2 linked regions of the Homo sapiens genome follow. The protein of the gene in region 2 purifies or fractionates together with the protein of the main gene of each other region. This does not show direct contact. Each region holds a gene or a part of one and is shown on either strand. Other genes may lie near its edges.

What was found.
Region 1: the proteins of RHEB (region 2) and NUDT9 fractionate together in Homo sapiens (co-fractionation; one large-scale study listed by BioGRID). This does not show direct contact.

What each region holds. Positions count from the first base shown.
Region 1 is NC_000004.12:87,425,290-87,429,112, forward strand, and holds part of NUDT9 (ADP-ribose pyrophosphatase, mitochondrial isoform a precursor), read left to right. Parts: intron 1-3,823.
Region 2 is NC_000007.14:151,509,628-151,513,450, reverse strand, and holds part of RHEB (GTP-binding protein Rheb), read left to right. Parts: intron 1-3,823. UniProt on the Homo sapiens protein: Small GTPase that acts as an allosteric activator of the canonical mTORC1 complex, an evolutionarily conserved central nutrient sensor that stimulates anabolic reactions and macromolecule biosynthesis to promote cellular biomass generation and growth.

The sequences.
Region 1 (3,823 bases), on a different chromosome or scaffold from region 2:
TTGAGCTCAGGAGTTGAGTTTGAGGCTGTGGTAAGCTATGATCGCATCACTGCATTCCAGCCTGAGTGGCACAGCAAGACCGTGTCCCTAGTGTTCTTTTCCTTTTTTTTTTTTTTTTTTTTGAGATGGAGTCTTGCTCTCGTTGCCAAGGCTGGAGTGCGGTGGCGTGATCTTGGCTCATTGCAACCTCCGCCTCCCAGGTTCTAGTGATTCTCCTGCCCCAGCCTCCCTAGTAGCTAGGATTACAGGCGCCCATCACCATGCCTGGCTAAGTTTTATATTTTTAGTAGAGATGGGGTTTTACCATTTTGGCCAGGCTGGTTTCGAACTCCTGACCTCAGGCAATCTGTCTGCCTTGGCCTCTCAAAGTGCTGGTGAATACAGGTGTGAGCCCCCACGCCTGGCCAAGACCCTGTCTCTTTGAAAAAAAAAAAAAAAAAAAGAATTTTACCAGTCTTTGATAATTTGGAAAAACCCAGAAAGTGACAGTTTTGCACTTAGTTTTTGTGATTACTAGAAGGTTTCCAATGTTCATTTTCTTTTTTAATTGCTCTGTCACCTAGGCTGGAGTGCAGTGGTGTGATCATGACTCACTGCAGTCTCAACCTCCTGGGCTCAGTGATTGTCCCAGCTCAGCATCCTGAGTATCTGGTACTACCGGTGCGCACTACCAGGCCTGGCTAATTAAAAATTTATTTATTGTTTGTAGAGATGGGTCTCCCTATGTTGCCCAGGCTGGTCTCAAACTATTGGGCTCAAGTGATCCTCCTGCCTTGGCCTCCTAAAGTTCTGGGATTGTAGGTGTGAGACACTGCTCCCAGTCATCAAATGTACATTTTCTAGAAAAAAGGTAGTATATTACAAAGATGTAGTGAATGCTTTTACATACCACAACATACAAATCTTCCAGAAGGATCTACTGGTGATGTGTGTAGAATATTGTTTTATTCCTGTGAATGCATAAAACATATGAATGAACCAAAAATGAAATAGAGATAGTAAAACATAGTGTTAAGAGCCTGGAATTCTAAGACAGCTTGCCTAGGTTTGGATCCTGATTTCTACTCTCAATTGTGTGACCTTGGTAAACTTATTTACCTCTCTGGGTCTTAATGTTCTTATTTCCTTTTTTTTTTTTGAGACAGAGTCTCGCACTGTCGCCCCAGCTGGTGTGCAGTGGTGTAATCTTGGCTCTCTGCAACTTGTGCCTCCAGGGTTCAAGCGATTCTCCTGCCTCAGCCTAGTGAGTAGCTAGGATTACAGGCGTCTGCCACCATGCCTAGCTAATTTTTTTGTATTTTTAGTAGAGACGGGGTTTCACTGTGTTGGCCAGGCTGTTCTTGAACTCCTGACCTTGCGATCGCCTGCCTCGGCCTCCCAAAGTGCTGGGATTACAGGCGTGAGCCACTGCGCCTGGCCTTAATGTTCTTATTTATAAAAAAAAAAATTGAAAAAGGATAATATGGCCTGGTGTGGAGGCTCACACCTGTAATCTCAGCACTTTGGAAGTCCGAGGCAGGAAGATTGCTTGAGCCTAGGAGTTCAGGACCAGCCTGGGCAACATAGAGTGAGACCCCATCTTGACAAAAAATAAACAAAATTGGGAGTCGCTCAGCCTACCTGATTTACCAAACCACTCCCTTGCCAAAAAAAAAAACAAAAAACTAAACCAAAAAAAAAAAAAGCCAGGTGTGGTAGCATATGCCTATAGTCCCACCTACTCAGGAGGCTGAGGTAGGAGGATTGCTTGAGCCTGGGAGGTCGAGATTGCAGTGAGCCATGATTGTACCAATGCATGCCAGCCTGGGTAACAGAGTGAGGCCTTGTCTCAAAAAAAAAAAAAAAAGTTAAAAAAAAAAAAAGTACCTGAACTCAGTTGTGAGGATCAAGTGAGTTAATTTACAGTGCTTAGAACACTGTCTTGCACATAGCAATCACTATATACATTTAGGTGTGATTATGACAATGATTGTTGCAGATTTTATTTCAAAGCACCACGTCAGTATTGCATTTTTAAAAGTTTGCCAGTCTTAAGAATTGGTTTTTGCCATGTAAATGGACTTTATCAGCTACTTAGTTCCCATTTGCTAGGCCAAATATATTTCTTGCACTTGTTCAATAATACAATACAAAGGTCAAGGCTGTATATGTGTGTATTACAAGTATTCTTTTTTCTGGTACCTTACAGTGTATCACATTTAAATAGCATATATAGATAGCAGTGTTAGCACTTCTTGATGTGATAAGATGTATAGCCTGAATTTTTGCACAATTAAATTTGTTTTAGAAAAGTAAATAATCCAGTGTGTAAATCTGTCTTGTCAAGTAGGTAGATTTGTGGAATTCCATAAACATTTTATTGCTAAATCAGGGAACAAAGAGCCTTAAGTTATTTAAACATTTTTGGTACGTGGGTGGGATGGAGTGGAACAGCATTAGTGTTTCCTGTTTGGTATTTAATTAATGGCCTTAACTTTTTTCTTGCCCTACTCCCAAACCATGAAACATAACTCATTTTGTGATAGGGTTCAATTAGAGATTAGGGTTCCATATGTTAAAATTTTGCTTTTTAAAACACCTGAAGTCTGTTTGCTAATTTTGATAAATGTGTTTCATATATGTATTCATTTTTTATTGAGTATGGGTTTAAGGTGAGTGAGGGAGACTTTATTTTCAGAATATTCATTGTGTAGGTTTCCTAAACTGTGGCAGCTGAGGCAAGAAAGTTGTCATAATCATAATATGAAAGTGAATGAACCTACTGCTTTTAGTAAAGTTAGTCACAAATCAAATACTCGCTCACGTTACACTAGTTTTCAGCCCGTCTGGGGATATTAACTTCTTTATTAGTTAGGTTTTCCCTCATTTTTGGGTGTTTTACCACACTTTGCAGATGTAAAGTGAGTGTAAAATGAAATAGTAATTGTTTCAGAGTCTTTAAATGTGATGAAAGAGAACAGCTTGAACAGTATATAAAACTGTAGACACACAAGAATAGGAAAGAATGAAACCAGTTAAAAATCCAACTGACAGTTTGTCAGTTTCTTACAGAACTCAACACTTATAATTCAGCAATCACACTCTTTGGTATTTACCCAAATGAATTGAAAATTTATGTCCACACAAAAACCTGCACACAGATGTTTATAGCAGTTTTATTCATAACTGCCAAAACTTGGAAGCAACCAAGATGTTCTTCAGTAGGTAAATGGATAAATAAACTGCGGTACATCCAGACAATGGGATATTATATTATTTAGTGCTAAGAAGAAATGAGCTATCAAGCCATGAAAAGACATGGAGGAATCTTAAATGCATATTATTAACTGAAGGAAAGGCTGTATGATTCCAACTATATGGCATTCTTGAAGGCACAACTATGGAGACAGTAAAAAGATCAGGAGTTGGATGAATTGGGGTAGCACAGAGGACTTTAAAAAATAGTCATTTTTTTAGAGCAGTTTTTAGGTTCACACCAAAATTGAGCTAAAGATAAGAGATATCCTGTATACCTCCTACCTCCACCCATGCATAGCCTCCCGCATTGTCAACATCCCCACAGAGCCACGGAGCCATACGTTTGTTAAAATTGAACCTACATTGACGCTTCATCACCCAAAGTCCTGTAGTTTATATCAGGGTTTACTCTTGGTCTTGTACTTTATGGTTTGGACAAATGTATAATGACACGCATCAACTCTTATGGAATTGTACACGTAAAATTCACTGCCTTTAGGGCAGTGAAACTTGCGTATGATACCTAATGGTAGGTACATGTTTACACTATATACACCGAAGAGGGACCAGGAGGAAGTCTAGGAAG
Region 2 (3,823 bases):
TTAGAACACTGTTCGCTATGAGTGGTGCAAGTTTTCCAAAATTCTAATTTCCTCCTTGAGTTCAAATAATTTCCTTGGCAACATGCTACCAGTTTTTACTTGAATTGACTGTTTTGTTTCTTTAATTTCCAAGAAAATGTCTGCCAGCTATTCACATTTGCAATAATGATAGTTTGTCATCATTCTTGCAAGTAAAAAAGGCATTCCATGATAAAAGTGGCCAGTTCAGATCACTTCTCAAATGACTGCACAAGTGCTTTTTTTGGAAACAACCATCATACTTCAGTATGTAACAGAGGTGCTTTATGTGTACATCTCATTTTGTCGTGCAGAATATTAAAAAGACAGGTACCAAAGGGTCAAGATTTAATATAATTTTACTGCTTTTTCAAGGACACTGTTAAGTAGAAACAGCTCTTTTCCCACTGTGAATGCATGGTAGTAAAGAATACAGTGACTTACCACTCAGTTTGTAACTACTGTTTTTGATTCATGCCAAGGGGTGCCGAGCTAGCAGTTTTCCCTACCATTGCTTTTGCACCCTTAGTACAAATGGGAACTTTGTGGAAAAGGCAAATGATAACTTAATATTGCTATGAATATCGTTTTGACCTCATGAGACCCCTGAAAAGATTTTGGTAAACCCCTTAGAGGTCCACAGACCACCCTTTGAGAACCATTAAACTGTTGTAAGCTAGGATCTTGTTCACTGCTGTGCAAAATCGAATTGACAGTGACTGCATCCTAAATGCTGTTCACAGCGATATGGTTCCCACAGTGTTAGAAGAGCCTCCTAGGAGAGGCCCTGTAGCGTTGTGAGAGACAAAGATGGCAAGGCAGGAAAGAACTTGGCGTGGTTAGAATGGAAGGAAGCACGAGGGAGGCCAGAGAACATCAGGAGAGTTATGATATCTGTGTGCCTATTGGTTTGGCCTCTGATTGTGTTGCATTTTTGGATGAGTTGTGTTTGGACCTGGTGATGGCGAGGCTCCCAGAGAGTAGTGAAAATTGCAAAGAGTAGCAGGATACCAGAGACCCATATACTAATAATATAGTTTTTAAATACGAGTATCAGGATGAAGGTGGGGAGGAGTACACAAGTAAAAATAGCAACTTTATCACAGAATGAGACACTGCCACCTCTACCTGTGATTGTGGAAGGTCAGAGATGCACAATGCTTTTCTTGGGTGAAGATTCAGAATAACAAGTTCGCAAACAACTGTAATAGTGTCCATGGCTGGATTGTTCTTAGTTACTTGAATAAATCAGAACTGAACTTGCACATGATTGTGCAAGTGAGAGTATTATGAAATCTTTAGGGATCATACTTGAAGGAACCTTCATTCTTAGTTCTAATTTATTCTGAAGTACCAAATGAAATCTTAACATTGATACAGTACTCACGGTCTATCTTCGTCACGTCATTCTTGCTAACTGTGAGAATGCAAACTGCTGAGTCCTTTTAACATGAATTGCTGGATTGATTTTTAAATATAATCAGCTGTGCGCAGTGGCTCTCGCCTATAATTCCAGCACTTTGGGAGGCCAAGGCGAGTGGATCACCTGAGGTCAGGAGTTCGAGACCAGCCTGGCCAACCTGGCGAAACCCTGTCTCTACTAAAAATACAAAAATTAGCTGGGCGTGGTGGTGGGCGCCTGTAATCCCAGCTACTAGGGAGGCTGAGGCCTGCAGGAGAATCACTTGAACCCGAAGGGGGAGGTTGCAGTGAGTCGAGATCGCGCCACTGGGCGACAGAGCAAGACTCCATCTCAAAAAAAAAAAAAGAAATCTAACATTTTAAAGGTTCTGGAATACTATTTTAGTATTTTAATTTTCTTCAATATATGTTGGGCTTCTGGTTATTAAAAAAAAAAAAGGAGTTCCTGTAGGATTGGAGCTTTAAATCTAAACTGGTATTAGTTTAGAACAGGAAGTGCTAGAAAAGCCTTTACGTTGTGCTCTTATGGGCAAGTTAAGAAAGCAGGGCAGTTTAAAGATAGTGATAGAATTCACTCCGAAGTGTCATGCTTGCTTGGTTTGCGTCTTATCTGTAGTAGAATTGAGTCTTTCTCTCCCGCATTTCTCTTTTTGTTGTGCTTACATGTTTGCAGAAGGACTCCTCATGGACATTTGAAAGAGAAGTTGGTGTTTTAGCAAGATACACCATCCCACCTTTTGCAGGATTGAGAGTTGAATGTTAATAACTACCTGATGGCATAGTACATAATTTGTGAATGGGGATGCAAATATGGGCTTTTACAGTTAATACAGTTTTATGAGATGAAATGCTTTTCTAAGACTTCTGTGTCTTAGATATAAATGTGTCTGCCTATTTTGCTAGCTTTATTTTTTTTTTTATTTTTTATTTTTTGAGACGGAGTCTCACTGTGTCATCCAGGCTGCAGTGCAATGTCGCGATCTCGGCACACTGCAGCTTCAACCTTCCAGCCTCAAGGATCCTCCCGCCTCAGCCTCCCGAGCAGCTGGGACTATGGGTGTGTGCCACCATGCCCTGGCTATTTTTTTATTTTTTTGTAGACATGAGGTCTTACTTGTTGCCTCGACTGGTCTCGAAGTCCTGGACTCAAGCGATCCAGCCACCTCAGCCTCCCAGAGTTCTGGGATCACAGGCTGAGCCACTGCACCTGTATTTTGCTGGCTTTAAAATCTCAATCACATTTGGCATTTGTTTGAAAGAGAACATTTGGGCCAGGCCCCCAAAGATTGAATCACTGCAACTGTTGGTTGAAGAGGACAGTTTGTGAGTGTTATGTGTTATTCAAATTAGGTGTTCATTAAGCATTTGAATAAATGCTCTACTTTGTACCAGTCACAAAAGCTAGGACAGTTATAATCCTTGCCCTCAAGGAGCTTCAGTCTAGTTGAGAGCCACAGGAACTTGTTCCTGCTACTGAGAATAATAATTGTTGGTGCTTTTGAAGCATTTACTGTTATGGGGTACAATCTTAATGCACATGTATTAATAGCCTTTAAACTCGGGTAGGTGCAGTTGTTACACCTATTTTGCAGATAAGGAAACTGAAGTACAAAAAGTTTATGTGACTTGCCCAATGTCAAACTGTTGTTAAGTGACAAAGCCAGGATTTTGAACTCAGGCAGTGGCTCCAGAGCAGGCAGTCTTTAATCAGCTACTACACGATTGTTACTTAAATACAGTTGGGATAGGTGTTTGAGAGAAATAATCAAAGGCAGGGCTAACTTGATCATCAAGTGGGGATGGGGGTGGTGGGAGAATTGTCTTTAAAGGAAAGGCAGTGTGGCTCACTGAGTGAATGAGAAGGGTGAGGTGTGAGTAATGAGAGAGGTCGGGACTCATGTGTTTGCCAACTGTCCTTCAAGAACAGTTTTGTCTGCTCTGTGAAAAGTTTTAGACTTTTTCCTAGAAACTGTGGGAAGTGACTGAAGGGTTTTAAGCAACAAATAAGACGATGATCTATACCAGGGACTGGCAGACTTGTTCTGTAAAAGGCCAGATAGTAAATATCTCAAGCTTTGCAGGGCAGGCCATGTAGCCTCTCTTGCAGCTATTCTACTTTGCCTTTGTAGGACGGAAGCAGCCACAGACAATACATCAACGAGTGGGTGTGGCTGTGTGCTAGTAAAACTTTATTTATGGATATAACACTTGAACTTCATCTGATTTTCAGTATCATGAAATACTGTTTCTTTTTCCAACCACTTAAAGATGAAAAAAACATTTTTAGCTCATAGACTGTACAAAACCAAAACAGGCTGTAGGCCAAATTTGGCCCCTGGTCTGTAGTGTGCTGATCCTGGCTTCCATCCTCCTGCTGTTCTGT